Linked DNA regions of Homo sapiens: region 1 is linked to region 2. The links come from fine-mapping of genetic effects on gene expression. Tissue or cell type: whole blood. Region 2 holds a variant in brackets; the other region holds the start of a gene. All regions are shown on one strand. Distances are from middle to middle.

Region 1 (8,334 bases), 35 kb after region 2:
TTATAAAACTGTATGGTTAAAATTTGAAAACTGCTTTTCTACCAGAGGTACTGTCAAATTCAGTCCATCATCATGTGATTCTGATGAAACTTGGCACTGAAGTATATCAAGGAGAAAGCTTTTTTTTTTTTTTAAGGAAAGAAACACACCTGACTATTGCTTTAGAACTACATGGCTACTTATTCTGGTTTGTGGGGTATTGTTTTGTTTTGTAGCCTTTAAGAGGTGGGGACAGGAGAAGATTTCAAATGGAATTGGACAGCTCCAAGACTGTAACCATTGGCTTTGAGGCTACCTGAGTTACTTCGGACTGTCCTTTCCAGAACCCTGTTTCCATCTGAGAAGTCTCTGGAGCTGATCCCCACAGCTAATCACAAACCCAGAGCATCAAAGCAGTGGAGGCCAAGGCAGGCCCTGTGGGTTTTCCGGGGCAAGCAGTAAGGACAAGGTTTCAAAGGTTTCCTTGTTGTGTGTTTCTTATCTAGCAGGGCCCAGGGGATATGCTGAACTGTAACAGGGCTTGACTTCTGCCATGGACACAGCCCAGTGCCTTTCTGTTCACTTTACCTGTAGCTCCTCTTCTGCTGAGTTCTTGCAGCAACATCATCAACAAACATGGACTAAAACGTCCACTGAGTGCCGGGACTGAAGGCCCAGGTAGTGTGGTTCCTGCCTTCAAGGAGGGGATTGTCCACAGGTGGTTACTGGACTCTGCAACCCCGGGCTCCCCAGAATTTTGAAGCGAGCACACAGTCTATGCTAGAGCTTCACTTCATCCCCAGCCACCAGAAGTCCTTGTCCCTGGCTGTGGCTTGGCTTGCTTTCTCACCATATAGTCCCACATTTTCACCTAGTAAATCTCTTCGTTTATGGCATAAATTAAACTGCTTATGTTAACCCTAGCAGTGTTCATGCTAGATCCACTTTCATGCCACATATGTGGGATTGAATCATCTTTAATAATAAAATAATTTACATAGTGTTCCTCAAGGCTGGCAATTACTGTCATCTTCAACTGTGAGATACAGGGTGATATGAAATTATTTCCTTGCCAGAGGCCAAAAGTCATAACAAAAATCAGATTTAACAACTTCTCTGCCCCTCCTCCCCATTGGTGGGGGTGTGGTATTTAGTATAAGGTCAAAAAGACCTGAGTTCAAACCCTGCTTCTGCTATTTAGCTGTGTGACCTTGGCCACGTTACTAAACCTTTCTGAGCCTGTGTTCTCATCTGGAAAAGAAGAGCAATATAATAGTCTGCCTTATCCTCCACGGATATGTTCCAAGACCCCCAGTGGGTGCCTGAACCTTGGACAGTACTGAACCCCATATATACTATGTTGTTTTTTATACATACATACCTGTTATAAAGTTTAATTTGTAAAGTAGGCACAGTAAGAGATTAACAATAGAATAATTATAACAATGTAATAAAAATTACATGAATATGGTCTCTTTCTTTCTTAAAATGCCCCATATTCACCTATTTTCAGACCATGGTTGACTATGGGTAACTGAAACCCTGGAAAAGAAAACCACGGGTAATTGGGGACCACTGTACTATCTCTCTCAAAGAATAGTTATGAATATTACATGACAGAACCAGTATTAAGTACCTAGGAAAAAAACAAAAGCAACATTGAAAACCTCAACCTTTTATTGTGGCTACTCTGGGCCAGGCACTGTTCTGAGTACATAATCTTTTTTAACTCCTTTAATCCTCAGGGAAATAATATTATCTCCATTTTACAAAGGATAAACTGAGGTAAAGGTGAGGTAACTTGCCCAAAGTCACACAGGTGTTAAGTGCCAGAACTAGGACATGTGCCCAGGCAGCCTGACTCGGAGGCTTCAGAAGTTCAGTTTTTTTTCCCATCCCCTTAACCCAAAGAGCTGCTGACTTTCACATAGGATTAGCCACTCATGCCTGCACATATTGTGTTGTTAAACTGCACACGCATGTTTAGGTTTTGCTTACTGCACAACTTTGGGTAAGTTATATAACTGGTCTATCCTCAGTCTCTACACCAGCAAAATGGGGATACAACGGTTCTTTCATTAGATGATTGCTAGAAACAAGTAAGATAATCAAGACAAAAGGCTGAGAAGAGTGCTTGACACATAGGACGGGCTCCACTTAGGAAGTGCTTTTAACATCCAAAGTAATGAACAATGCAATATATTAGGAAAATTCTTGGTCTTCTATGGCTTGGTGAGGCACACAAGATTTTGTGGCTGGCTGAATCCAGTATTTTCAAATGGCTATCCTTGTTCTCTGGCAAACATACTGCATTTAAAAATAGATTTCTCATTCAATCAATGAAAAGAAATACAGGTTCACAGGATTCTGGTTAGTAAGAAATGAGACTGGGCCTAGATAAAATCTGACTGAAAGCAAGAATCTGAATAACAATAATAATAATAATAATACGATCAGAGCAGTCTTCTTGGAGGTTTTTAGGTTACGAATTATATTCCACCCACTGGATAAATGTTACAGTTAATGGTCAAAGAATTTGTGAAAAATCTATGGCCTGGCTAAAAAAAAAAAAAAAAAAAAATCTTTGGGTGATACAGGTGAAAGCAATTTTATCCCCAACACTGTTGAATACCAGGAACTTTATACATGAAAAAAGCACAGCTTTTGTGAGCATGTTGGACATAAAACAAAACACCACATTAAAGGAAAGGCTGGAGCGCAGACAGGGCAAATGAACTCATGTGAGCCCTTCTGCAATCACTGTTACGGCTTTGTATTTATTCATCTTGCACCGCACTTAAATGTGCAATAAAAAGCAAAAAGTGTGCAACACTTATTACTCTAGCTGCTTTTACTTGTTCCATAGAGATACGTGAAACAATTTCACTGCTCAGATTGAGGGAAAGAGGAGCTCATCTCATTTCAAGCCTGTAGCTGCTGCCACAGCCTCAGCACCATGTTCTAATCATAGAATTCATCATGTAAATCTCTAGCAGATGATGCCATTGGAAAACAGAAACTGCCATGGATCCAGAAATGCTTCCAAATTTCTCCTCTAAAGTTCTTATCTGTGAGCCCAGAGGCTGGTGCTGTTTTATTCAAATGGGTGAGGCCCATTGGGAAACCCGCATTCTTTGGGAGACTTTATGAAGAATTTCAACCATTCCTTGACTATAGAAAGGGCCTTTATCATTTATTTCACATATGAAAATGCTAAATATTTCACAACTACTCCAACTTATTTCTGAGTGTCTAAATCTATTCTGAAAAGGGTATGCATCACACACATACCTGTGTAGCTTATTAACTACCAATAAGAGCTCACACAAATTGCAGGGGGTATGAAAGAGTAGACTTCTGGAACTGTCCAGAAAAGAAGAGAAGGTACATTTCCTGGTTTTAAGATGAAAGAGCTTGTGTAAATTAGAACATTACAGGAGCCTTTTAAATTGTCTTAGGGATACCTTTGGGGCATCATCGCTGGTTCCTGGTGAGTCTTTTTTCTCCCTGTGATGTTAACAGGAAGTCCCTAAAACTGGCTTTGCTATTAAAATACAGACATCTGCTGCTCTCCTAATTTTTGTTCCTTTTAAAAGGCAGTACTCCCAAGAAACTCTTGGATATTGTGAGAATTAAGAGCTGGGAGATGGGGATGGAATCTTTGTCTCCCTAACACATTCATCAGTTCCCTCCCTAGAGCCCCCCTACAACCTCAGCACACAGCAGCAGCCCACTCCTCCAAATACGCCAGGGCTGGAAAGATTCATGTTGCAATACCCTCCTGACATTCCTCATTTTAATTCGCTCACTTTTTTTTTTTTTTTTTTTAAACAAAATGTAATTACTTGACTGTCAGCCTAGGCTGCACTCTGGGGCTTTTACTCCTTTCAACACAGCTGCGCTCCCGGCTTTGATGCTGCTGTCCACGCAGCTTGTCCCAGCCACAGCCTGGCTCTCAGTAATGTAACATTCAAGTGCATATTTATTTTTAAACTGACCTCTCCTAGACTGCACAGTATAAAGGAGATCCTGCCCAAAAATATGCTACTTTCTATTTATAAGATGAAACACATGCCTCCCAAAGTCGAGAGAGGGATAGAGTATAATAATTCATAACGAAAAAATGGCCAGATCCATTCATCCTCACATGTCTGATACTTGTCTGTGTCAAGCCACTTAGTTTCAAGGAGAAAGGGAAGAAAACAAAAAACAAAAAACCTTGTAAACGTCTCAGCTGTTCACCGTCAAAAAACAAAAAAGTCAATATCCAGATCTGCAGGTTGGCGCCCCACTAACAATGTCCTCCATTAAGAAAGAGGAGGGCACCGGGCAGGCGATGCCACGGCAGAGCTGTGCGATGCACCCATGTGCGGCCCTGGTACCAATCCATGATGCGAGGGGCGCGGTAGCCAAGCGCGGCTTGTTCTCAGATGGAAAAATGCTATACGCGCCCAGAATGGCTCTGCCAATAGCTCGGAGGGTGCAATGTGGCCGCGCAGCCCCACCCTGAAAAGTAGTGGGCACAAATGGTGGAGCTCTGAGTCCTGGTCGTGCCGCCGGACCCCCTCCTGGCTTGCTTTATGTCCCCTTCGTTCCGTTGGACACTAGATGGGAAAGCGATGCCCTGGGTATCCCGACTCCCTGCTGGTTTCCCAGCCTAACACCAGCGCACGCCGGAAGCGGCCACGGCCGCGGGCGGGACAGACTCACAGACAGGTAGAGAGGAAGGAGCCCTGGGCTGCCCCGACTCACCGGCCGCCGCTGAGGATCCCAGCCGCTGCCCCGGGCCTCCCGCGGGCGCACGCAATCCCTGCCGCTGTGCGCAGATCCAGCCGAGTCTGCCGGCGTGGTGCCTGCTCACCGCATTATCCGCTCCGAGACGGCGTGAAGGCGCCCCAGGCCGGTGGCCGGGTCTCCGGGCTAGCCCCGCGCTGCGGTCCCCCGGCCGCGAGAGAAGGTGCGCGCGACTGAGCGCGGGGCGGCCGGACGCGAGGACTGAACCTGCGGAGGGCGGGGCGGCGCGGGGCGGGGCCGGCGGCGCGGGGACTCACTGGGGCGGGGCGGAGGGCGCGGGCAGCGGGGCCGACCCTCCCAGCCGCGGTACCTGTGCCCTGGCCCGGGGCCAACCGGTGGCCGGGCGCGCGCGCGGGGGGGGGTCACCGTTGGACCCTCGGAGGACAATGGGCGCCCATTGTTACCTCCCCAGCGCCACCCCCCAGTAGGCGACTTCTCTCGGAGAAGATGCCGCTTTCGACTCCCTAAGCACAAAGAAAGGTCGCCGGACGCTCGGTTTAAAGAGGGACCCGGAGGTGCTGCCGCCCGGGTGCACGGGGACAATAGGACTCCGCCCGCACCCCGGACTCCCGCACTAAAACTCGTGCGCCCACCTCTCCCGATCCCAACAGGCCGACCTAGCTGTGCGAGTGGCGGGCGGTGACCCGCAGGGAAGCGAGGCCACCTGAGTGCGCCGCCCCGGCCAGGCCGCAGCTCCCCAGGTCCCTCTCAGCCCGGGCTCCGGTGGGCGCGGAGGGGGAGGGTCGCGTTCTGTCAGTTTCTAGCTCGCTCCCCTCAGAGCTGCAGCCAAAACCCGGAGAGTGGAATAAGCGCCCTGAAGATGCCGGAGCTCCCGGCTGAGCAACTGGACACGCGACGAACAGCAGACGCTACAGGTTCTCCTACCCAGAGGGAGGCGTTTCTTCTCCCTCAGGGTCTTTCAAAAGGATTTGCCTAAAGCTGGGGCAAGCCGGTGGCGGCTGCCCCAGACGCGCGACGAGGCGCAAGTGGCGCAGCTGCCGGCCCGAGAGAGTAAAATTCAGGCCGCGGTGGCACCTGCGCCCGCCGGTCACCCGGCCACCGCCAGCGCCGCCGCCCGGCGCGCCCCTCCCCTCCGCCGGGGCCGGAGCGTGAACCGGGTTAATGAATGCTAATTTTCTTAATCGGCCTCCGTCTCTTCCTCCTCCGCGAGTCGTCGGCCTGGGGAAGGAGTAGGCGACAGGAAAGGGCGGTGTTTTCCGGCTGGGAGGTCCCAGCCCGCATGGTCAGCCAGGGGAGGGGGCTGGGACCCCTGGGAGTCGGACGCTGGGGGCCTGGCCTCTGCCCTGAGACTCTCGGGTTGGATGGAAATCCTGGCACAACGCGGAGAACCTCCCGGATACCTTGGCTTTGCCGAGAGATATCAGCTTCAGGTCATCACCGCGGTGCCCTGGGTCTGTCTGAAACCTTAGAGGGTGCGCCTTAAGCCGATGTTGTAAACCCAGGCTGACTTTAAGGTGAAGTGAAAAGGAAACGCACACAATCTGGAAAGCAAAATACTTGGGTGGGGTGTTAAAAGCCTCAAAGAAAAATAGTAGTTGGCAGGTCAAATGGCCATGAGGTTGGAAGTCAAATACGAAACTCGGCTGAAGTGATGTTAGAAGTTTGACAAGCAAAAACAGTCCGTGAAGATAAGAGACCCAGCATTGTTTCCCTTCTTCAAAAGACAACTCGTCCAAAGTTTCCTTTGGCAGATACCTGGATTCTACTCCAGATTCCTGAGCATTTTACTTGGGTTTCATATTTCAAAATATATGTTCCATTTGGCACTAATGTATATATTTTATATATTAATTTATTGAAAAATATTAAATGTTCCTGGCCTACTTAGAAAAAGGTATTTTTATAAATATTTATGCATAGTTTTCATTACATAGGGTATTTTATAAGTCCAAATAATATGTGTATATATATAAAATACCACATGCAAAATTCCTTTTGAACACATAAAGACATTCCCGACACACATGTCTTGTATGTAATTTTTTTCACGTGATCTATTGTTAGCTGCTGTTAAAAGCACTTTATTTCTACATGGCCAAATAAATAACTTCTTTTACAGTTTTTGCAAATATAGAGTGGCAGTTTGTCTGAAACGGCATTTTTATTCTAAAACCTATTTTTACTTTTCTACATTATCCCTTGCCTTTTAGAGGCTTTCTCTCCCTCTGCCGTTTTTAAATGAGACTTCACTGCTGGACTCTAAACAGTTATCCAGGACCTGCTCATTCAAGGGCCTGGTGGTTTGATTTATCTTGGCTCCTTTGGCCTCGCCTCCCCACCCCTCCCCTGCCCTCCCCTCCCCACCCCTCCGCTTCCCTCCCCTCCCCTTCCCTTCCTTTCCTTTTTTTTTTTTTTCCCCCAGGGTCTCAAACTCCTGGCCTCAAGTGATCCTTCTGCCTCAGCCTCCGAAAGTGCTGGGATTACAGGCATGAGCCACCATGCCCTGTGCCTCACGTTATTTCTTTGTACTGAACATCTTCAGTGAGTAACTGATCCCTCATATAGTGAATTATTCTTCCAAATGAGTGCATTTCCTGTGCTAACTATGATAGCTTGTAGAGTTGATGGATTTAGGTTTCAACATGTTATGGGAGTCTACTACCGGAAGAGAGGAAAAAGCTTTGCTTCAGGAAGATTTTAGGAGTTTTGAGATTCTGCTGTGAATTTTGGAAAGGTTTAGCCTTAAAAACATTTGGTGGTAACCTTAGAAGCCTGGTATCTGTAGACCACCTGTCAGGCCCAACAGTGGGCTGTTTTTCTATTAGTCCCTACTTGGGAGAAAAGCCAAGTAGTATTGTCAGTGCCCTTGCTGTCCAGAAACCTGTGATCTACCTAAGTGCAGAGAGCACCTTGCCAGTGTACACAAGCAAATGCTGACCACATTCTAGTCTCTTGCTACCAAGTATGGTCCCAGGACCAGCAGCACCAAGCCTCACTCCAGGGCTACCAAGTTGGAATCTTCAGTCTAATGAAATGTGGATAGTTTGCGTGCAGATTTAATGTTTGAGAAGCACCGTCCATGAGTGCTTGGTGGTTCTCCACCTTTCAAAGCTACAAACTCATTTGAAAATCTCATGGGATTTATGAGCACCCTTGGAAAAGCATATTGATTGATACACAAAATTTTTCATATGCAGTTTCAGAGTTCCTGTAAATAATCTATTGATGCCAGGGAAGTCCTAGGTTAAGACCCCCTAGTCACAAAGAAGATTGACTCAGTGTCAGCTGGAGGAGTTAAGAGAAGATTCTCACAGGGGGCAGAGCTTAAATTAAACCTGGGGAATTTGATAGGAAGAGGAGTAAAGAAGAGCATTTCAAGCTGTTGAAATGCAAAGGTCCTGAGAGGGAAAAAGAGAATGTCCTTTTTTGTATGTGTTCATGTGAAACTTAATGAGGAGATTGTTGTTTGACAGCAGGCTTTCCTTGCAATTCCTTATCATCACTTGAACGTCCAGAAAATGAAGCCAGACTGTGGACTCAGTAGTCATTCCACTTTGGGTGTGCAAGAACCCTATGACATGGGGGTTTCACATAAGATCT
Region 2 (8,334 bases):
GAGGGCTACATATGTGATACAGGAGAGTCAGTCCAGGATTACTTGCTTTCATTCTCAATCTTGTCTGGATAATCAGGTTACAGTATGCTAAGGACATCAAGATGCCCAGAATGGCACAAGTGGAAATTCTTTTAGATGCCTTGTTGTGCGCTCTTGAGTGTCTGTGGTTAGAACTTGATTCTTTACTGGCCTATGGATCAAGTGTCCTGTGGTTTGTGACAGCTGCAGCATTGGATGAGATAACTGGGGGTGCCAGGCATAATTCATCCCCGTATGTCCACATTCTGACTATAGAAAGCTATTGACCTAAAATAACATTTTATATCATTTAAAAATATTTGGGTAGCCTAAGATCCATTTTTTTGTTTTGGATCAGGAGGTACTACATCCAATTTTTACATGTCGTACCTCTTTGTTTTCACAGATAATTTATATTTCTTTATCTCTGACACTATTTGGCTGTCCTAGAAATAGCTGATGACACCAATTAGGAGATACGCTCAGTCACTGATGACGTCCTATCCTATTATGTGTTCATGCACAGCAGGGCAGGGTATCTGAAATGCATTTGCTTTAGCACATTTAGATAATGTGTGGGAAAGGTGACAGGTTTTTATTTTCTTTTTTGCCAATTTGTACATTAGTGTCTCTTAAGTGGCAGATTAAAAATTTCTTAAAGCACTAACACTGATTAAAAATGTTTGTTTAGGCTTGTTCAGAACTCTTAAGTGCTTGCAGGAGCCAAATCACATTCTCGTCCTTTAAGCAAACAACATTTTAAAAGCCTATAATGGCTGTATCTTATTGAAGCAAATGATAATAACTTTCTATAGGGCTATTTTCTTTTATAAGGTAAATAACTAAAACTTGTAAATATGGAAAAATAATCCAGATCCATAGACATATTTGTAAGTATATATTTCTTAAAAATGTTTCAGTCCTATTAGTCTCTATCATTTTAATACACTGGCAAAATATATAGTACTTTGTTCTTTTCTCAAAACTCTTTTTCAGAATTTATGGCATTTCTTGTACCTGGTAAAGACTACTGATAAGCCATTTCTTGTGGACTAATAAAAAAAATTAGTTTTTGGTAAGCATTAATTTTAGTCTCTGCTTTTTATCTGTTTATTCATTCTTTCATCCTTCATTCAGCAATAGCTTCTGTGCTGGGCTGGGAGTCAGGTTGGAGGAATGTGCCCTCTCACCAGGAGGATGGACTTGATTGTATCACTGTGGGGGACCCACTGAATAGTGGGACCTCTGCAAAGTGCAGTGCAGCCCAAGAGGAGAGAACAACTGATTCTAACACAGGCTTCACAGAGAAGGTGACAGAGGTTTTAACGGGTTAGTAAAAAAGGAGTTCATGCAAAGACAGAAAGGCTGAAAAGACGGGTATTTGGGGAGTTCTGCAATGGTAAATGAGGGGGAAGCTAAATGTGTGTGGCTGGTGGCATAAGTAACGTGGGATGTGTAGATTGAGGCCAGAAGGCGAAGGGACTTGAGTGCCATTTTCAAGACTTTGTTTGGACTTTGTCTCCTAGCTATGGAGACCTCATAAGGACCTTTAGTCAGGGTGGTGACTTAAGAGTGGGCACTATTGGAATCAGAGGCTCTTACAATAACTGTGAGAGGGAATAAGGACTTAAGGCAAAGACCTTCTTTGTGATTATAGACAAATTTATTATGCAATACAATAGATAAAAAAGATTAATGCATAAGTCTTCATAGCCCCTCTTCCTCTTCTTCCCCATACCCCCCAGGAAAATTCTAGCAGAGCTATGGATTATGAATTGGATTTTCTTTGGAGTTCTTTAAGAGAAGAATATAAATATTCTAAATGCTTTAATTCTTCTTTGTTGCTACATCTTGATTTGTTTGTTTTTTCACTGTAACTGCACTGAGATCAGTCCCCATGGAGCTCTAGGTTATTAGGGCTACATAACATGTTTTTTTTTTAGGAGAGCCAGTATAATGTTGGGTGACCCAAAGGTTTATGCCTACTTGGGGGCAGTTTGAAGACCTACTAGTTAGTCACATCTACAAAGATAAGATAGGCAAGGTTTTAAAAACCCAAATCCTGTCTGGTTTCCTGCTACCACAGTAATTTCCTGAGGAATACTCCAGGATAAGAACATGCTGTTTATTACCAGCTAGGGCTTTGTCCTTGACACCTCACAAAAGTGCCTGTTCCAGGTCATGAACTTGGGTCAATCTGTGGGCAAGATGTAAGAACCCTTTGCCTCCTCTGAACTCGGAAGCAATTGAGATGACATCCATCTTTGGATGTTCTCTCCTGGACTCTACCTGGTTCCTGCTTGGTTTTCTAACAGAGGGAAAAAAGAGGATGCCGCTTTCCAACCATAAGGAGGCCTCCATCCAATCTTATCCTATCAGCTGCCAGGAAGGAAAAAGAGAGAAGTGATCTCTGTTCTAAGAAAGTTGCATTTTAAAGGAAGAAGTTCTGAATGAAGTGCCCCAATCAGGAGCAAGGATGCTTATCTTCTTTCCTCCTCTGATATGGTTTGACCGTGTCCCTACCCAAATCTTATCTTGAATTGTAGTTCCCATAATCCCCATGTGTCATGGGAGGGACCCAGTGGGAGGTAATCGAATCATGGTGGTGTTTACCTGCATGCTGTTCTCGTGATAGTAAGTTCTCATGAGATCTGATGGTTTTATAGGGGCTTTTCCCCTCCTTCTCTCTGCACTTCTTCTTGCTGCCACCATGTGAAGAAGGGTGTGTTTGCTTCCATTTCTGCCGTGATTCTCTTTCCTGAGGCCTCCCCAGCCCTGCAGAAGTGTGAGTCAATTAAACCTCTTTCCTGTATATTTAATCAACTATCTAGTCTCTGTTATGTTGCTCCATTAGCAGCATGAGAACAGACTAATACAGCTAACCCACTTTACCCTTAGCAGCATAGATTCAATTCCACCTTCTTTGTGGAATTGAATTCCTAATTCATATTAGGGTGTTGGGCAGAGTGAGTATTTGACTTTCATTTATTCATTGGATTTTACATCCAGGTTGTGCCACTAGCACAAACAGTTCATGGAGGGCCTTGTATACCTGTTTAGGAATTTGGGCTTTGTATGGTAAAGGAGAGTTTCTGAAGGTTGTTAATTAGGGACTTTATGGGTTTAGATGTTCAGTTAGAGAAGCTTAAAATATTTTTTAAAATATAGTATCTAAAAAATATTTTTAGAGCCCATCACTCAAAATTAAAAAGGAAAAACATTGGCAGGGGTCATTCTAAAGACAGTGAAATAGTTAGGAAGCTGTTGCTATATAATAGAAGCAAGGTATGATGAGGGCCTGAATGGAGTCAGTGGCAGTGGGATTGGAGAAAAGAGATTGGACATGAGAAATATTTAGGAGGCAAAAGAAGAGGGTTGTGTGGAAAAAGGAGTCACTTCCCGGGTTTTGTCCTGAGAAGCTGGCTGGATGGTATTGTCACTCACAAGCACAGGAGAAGGAGGATGGAAGCATATTTTTGTTGGTGGTGAACTTGATTTGAAATATGGTAAATTTGGGGTTCTGGCAGGCCAAACAAGCAGAGATGTCCAGGGCTCATCTGGATATTCAGGTCTGAAGCCCAGGAGTTGTATTTGGGCAGGAGATAGAGATGTGGGAGTCATCAGAAAATAGATGGCAGTTGAAGCTCTGAAACAAGACATCACCAAACAGAAGAATGAGAATGACCCTAGGGTGCGTGGTAGCAATGGGGTCAGTAGTCGAAGAAGAACCGGGAAGGATTCACAGTGGTGTAGTTGGTGGGAGAGAAGGAAAACCAGAGAGAAGGGAGTGAGAGGAGCAGCAGTGCCCTGGAGAGTCAAGTGCTGCAGAGAAGAGAAGAAAGGGAGGTAGGGTGGGGAACATCTGTGACTTTAGGAAGGTGGTTCATTGGTGACTGCTGAGCGCAGCTTCAGTGAACGGTGGCAGTAGATCTGGAGGAAAGTGACTCAGTGAATGTGAGGTGAGCAAATGGAGACATTGGTGTAAATGCCCCTTTCGAGGTTGTGGAAGTGGCTCACGTTTTTGAGGCAGGGCTGTGTTTGTTTTTCAGAGGTAGGGACTCGAGCATATTCTCTGCAGAAGCCCCCAGTCAGTGAGACTGGTAAAGACTGTTGTCATGTAGTCAGAGGCAGAGTCTCAGTTCTACTCCTTCTCTTATCTCTGTCACACTGAACACTTCTGCTCTTTCTTAAATCACCAGTTGGCTCCTGGGGCTCCCAGGCCTTTCTGGGTTTGCTCTGGGTTTATTC[A/C]CCTCTTGTGTCAGTCTGTTCTCATACTGCTATGAAGCAATACCCGAGACTGGGTAATTTATAAAGGAAAGAGGTTGAATTGACTCATAGTTCTGCAGGACTGGGGTTGCCTCAGGAAACTTATGGTCATGGCAGAAGCGGAAGCAAACATGTCCTTCACGTGGCAGCAGGAGAGAGAAGTGCAAAGGGGGAAAACCCCTTATATAAAAACATCAGATCTTGTGAGAACTCACTATCATGAGAACAACATGAGGGTAACTGCCCCCATGATTCAATTATCTCCTGCTGGGTCCCTCCCATGACACGTGGGGATTACGGGAACTACAATTCAAGATGAGATTTGGCTGGGGATGTAGCCAAACCACATCACCCCTGTTAGAGGTGGAGGATTTGCTGTGCCCCACTCACTGCCACCCCCACTGCCACCAGGGCAGTCATGTCTCACATGGTGCGACATTTGGTATCCCCACTCCTTCACCCACTTGTGCCTTCAGAGAGGACTCGGAGCCCTCAGGAGAGCTACAGGGTAGTCCCGTAAATAGCCAGGGGCCAGTGAGATGATGTACTCTGAGGAGAGGCTTCCCACAATACAAACCTTAGGTGTCAAATGTGCTATGAGGACACTGAGGCATTGTACCCTCAGCACCTGTGGCAGGTAGGTGGGGCCCAGGCCAGCCACAACAGCCCTTTCATTTCCCCATGGTGCTGTCCCAATGTCATAATTTTCTTTGTCATGATATGGGAAGCACTGCCTGATGGGGCCCCACCTCCAGCACATTGGCTGTCTCTCTGTCACTTGGCTTCCTGAATGGTATTTAAACGCCCCCCGCATCACTGTTGGGTCTCAGCAAACTCTCTGGCCTCTTGTTCAATTTGCCCTCTGCATACTGGGAAGGCCTATTTAACTTTGCCTGGCATCTGTGTGGAAGAAACACTTCTTAGGCAAAGAGCTCCTGGAAGACAATCTCCCTAGCAACAATGAAGCATCCTCTCTACAGTCTTTTCTGCCTCTCTTTTGTTGTTATCTGGATGACAGGGATTGAATCTGGCCTCTGCCCATATCAAATGCTGTCTGGGGCTGGAAACAAGCCTCAAAACATGTTTTAAATATTTTATTTCCCCCCGTCTCCCCTAAGTCTGCCCACCATGCATACGCTTGATTAAAGTTATGCCCCAGTGATCAACTGTGAGTGACAGTGACCCTCCTAAAGGTAGTCTACTTAGCCTCTGGGCTCAGGCAACACACCTGTGTCTGATTAGACACTGTTACCCTGCTTGAACCTGTGCCACATGAAAGCAGCTTTCTCTTGTGCTCTGGTAGTGGGAGATGCTTTCTTGTAATGTTAATGCAGGGCTAGACTTTTCTCCTGCTGATCCTTTGCCTGGAATGTTCTCCTCTTCCTTGTCACCAGCCAGAGCACCACTAAATCAGTGTAAACTCCTTAAGGGAAGACTAAAGTCCTGGGAAGTGGGGTCATCCTGGCCTTATCTCCTTAAAGAACCTAACTCTTCAAGGGGGTCTTCCCTGTTAACCCTCTGTATTAGTTGGCTAGGGCTGCAGTTGCCAGTACCATGAACTGCGTGACTTAAACAACAGAAACTAATTGTCTCACAGTTTTGGAGATCAAGATCAAGGTGCCAGCAGGTTTGGTTTCTCCTGAGACCTCTTTCTTTGGCTTGCAGATGGCCACCTTCTTGTTGTGTCCTCCCATGGCCTTTCATCTGTGTGTGTGCATCCCTAATGTCTCTTCCCCTTTTTATAAGGACGTGAGTCCTATCCAATTAGGGTCCCACCCTTATGAGCTCATTCAGCCTTAATTACTTCTTCAAAGGCTTTAGCTCCAAATATAGTCACACTGAGGGTTAGGGCTTCAACATATGAATTTTAAGGGAACACAGTTCAGTCCACCTCATTATCCTTAACGTTTTCCATTTTTCTGTATTCTCTCCAGTGCTTGGGTATTGCATCAGTTTCCTATAATTGCTTTAGCAAATTACTAAAAACTTGGTGGCTATAAACAACAGAAATTTATTGTCTCACAGTTCTAGAGGCCAGAAGTCTGAAATCGGTGTCACTGGGCCGAAATCAAGCTGTCAGCAAGGCTGTACTCCCTCCAGAGGCTCTAGGGGGAAATCTGTCCCTTGCCTTTTTCACTTTTTGGTGGCTGGCAGCATTCCTTGATTTCTGGATGCATCAATCCATCCTCTGTGGTCACATTGTCTACTCCTCTTCTGGTCAAATTTCCCTTTGCCTCTCTCTTATAGGGACAATCGTGATTGCATTTAGGGTCCACCCAGATAATCCAGACTAATGCCCCATCTCAAGATCCTTAACTTAATCATATCTGTAAGGCCCCTTTTACCAAATAAGGTGACATTTATAAGTTCCAGACATTAGAATCTCCTATCTTGGGGGCCATTATTCCACCAGCCACAGGAGTATTGTTCATAATATATCATTTGATGTTTAAACAAATGATGTATCATTTGATGTTTAACAGCTGACCTACAAAAAGAGCCCTTGTTGCAAGGGCAGGAGACACAAAGATGTTTTTGCTGGGTGTGTTCAGACAAGATCACACCCTTCATACCATAATCTAGAGCCTTGGCTCTGTCCTCCCACATGACCTTCGCCTGAGGGGAGGGGCTGGGGACTAGGGAGCCAAGGAGTCTCCCTGGGGAGGTGAGGTTTCAGATGATCCAGGGGTTGGAAGAAGTTTCTCCCATGCATTTTTATCTCATGGCTGGTTAAGAGGGGTGGGCATCCCACTCCCGGAAGCCATTTCACTTTGAATACTTTGTTTACTTCTGGTTAGAAGAGTCTTCAGGAGTGTGGGCTCTGGTAAGAAGGTCCCATTTTCCCTGGACTTATACAACCAGGTCTGCTTCTTGTGTTTTGCTATCGTGACACTTTTACAATTTTTCCTCTCAGTTACCTAAGGTACCTGATGAATAGTCAACATGTTTGTGAAGTCCAGAGTGCCAGATGTATTGAAAATGAGCAATTTTAATCAACGGTGAACCTACCTCTTTATATTTTTTTTTTAAAAAGAGGGCGATTACTGAAGCTTCACAAATAGTGCTTTATTTAGTCATAGGAGCCATGATCTGGTACTAGGATGGGAGGACTTTATTGGCTGCTAATCTAAGATTGTGTTTGTCTGTTCTTCCTTCTTGCCATTTATGGTGGAAAAATCTTCCAGAGCACCACAGGTGTTTTGTTTCTTGCTTCTAGTCCCATCCCAATTTCATTTTCATGAAATGGGAGTCAGGTTTGGAAGATAATTACCAATTTCCTTTTCCTACTTTTAACAATGCCCCTGCTTACGGTACAAAGTTGTGTCTGAACATTACTGCTTATTCTGAAAAACTCAATATGTAATTTTTAATGTCGTTTCAAGCCTTTTGAAGTTTCATCTGTTTCTGGGGCATTGCTAATGGTTTACCTTACAACGCAGAAAGAACTTATAAAGGAGATGTCAGGAGAAAATAATAATCTCCTCAATGCAATCATGTCATTAAGATGCTACTGTTAAGAGTGGGGGATGAGGCAGAGGAAAGACCAGACAGTGACTTAGAAACATGAGCATTTGGCATCGAAGGCATTACTGTCTTGAAGCCTTCTGGCCTGTAGGGTGTATGGAAACATGTCAGTTATGGAGAGTTTTATATTAATCTCCTGTACCATCTAATTTGGTTGATTCAAAATTAGGTTTAATTACAAGTGATCTTCTGGCACTAGGGAGACCGGCCAACAATAACCTTCATTATCTCTTCTGGTGAAGGCCACATTTGCTCTCAGGTAAATCTCTCAGAAAAGCTCATCACTGCCCATTTTTCTTTGGTCCCAGGCAAAATTATGCATTACATGAACTCACTCTTCATGTTTTTCCTGGTCTCTCTTGCTACCTGGTCCCAGGCCAGTTGCTAGAGACTTGTGCTCCCACAGTGGGCATCTGATAAGTGAGTTCACTTTTCACTGTTGGTGGCTTGCAGATGTTGTTACTCCTGGAATTATTCTAAGGGGACTCCATGCCTAATAGAAAAAGCCTCACCTAAAAAGGAACC

What was found.
Region 1: CDC42EP3 starts here. The variant in region 2 is fine-mapped to the expression of CDC42EP3 in whole blood (TOPMed, PIP above 0.99).

The regions. Positions count from the first base shown.
Region 1 is chr2:37,666,695-37,675,028 of GRCh38, forward strand. It overlaps CDC42EP3 (CDC42 effector protein 3), which reads right to left and starts at 4,948. Exons shown (of 2, transcript NM_006449.5): 1 at 4,732-4,948. RefSeq lists silencers at 4,737-5,226, 5,397-5,456, 5,467-5,536, 5,757-5,926.
Region 2 is chr2:37,631,308-37,639,641 of GRCh38, forward strand. No RefSeq gene overlaps it. Among named protein-coding and RNA genes, the nearest start is that of CDC42EP3, 36 kb to the right of the region's middle. RefSeq lists enhancers at 2,535-2,734, 2,755-2,824, 4,357-4,586. The variant A/C (reference allele first, on the strand shown) is at 4,267.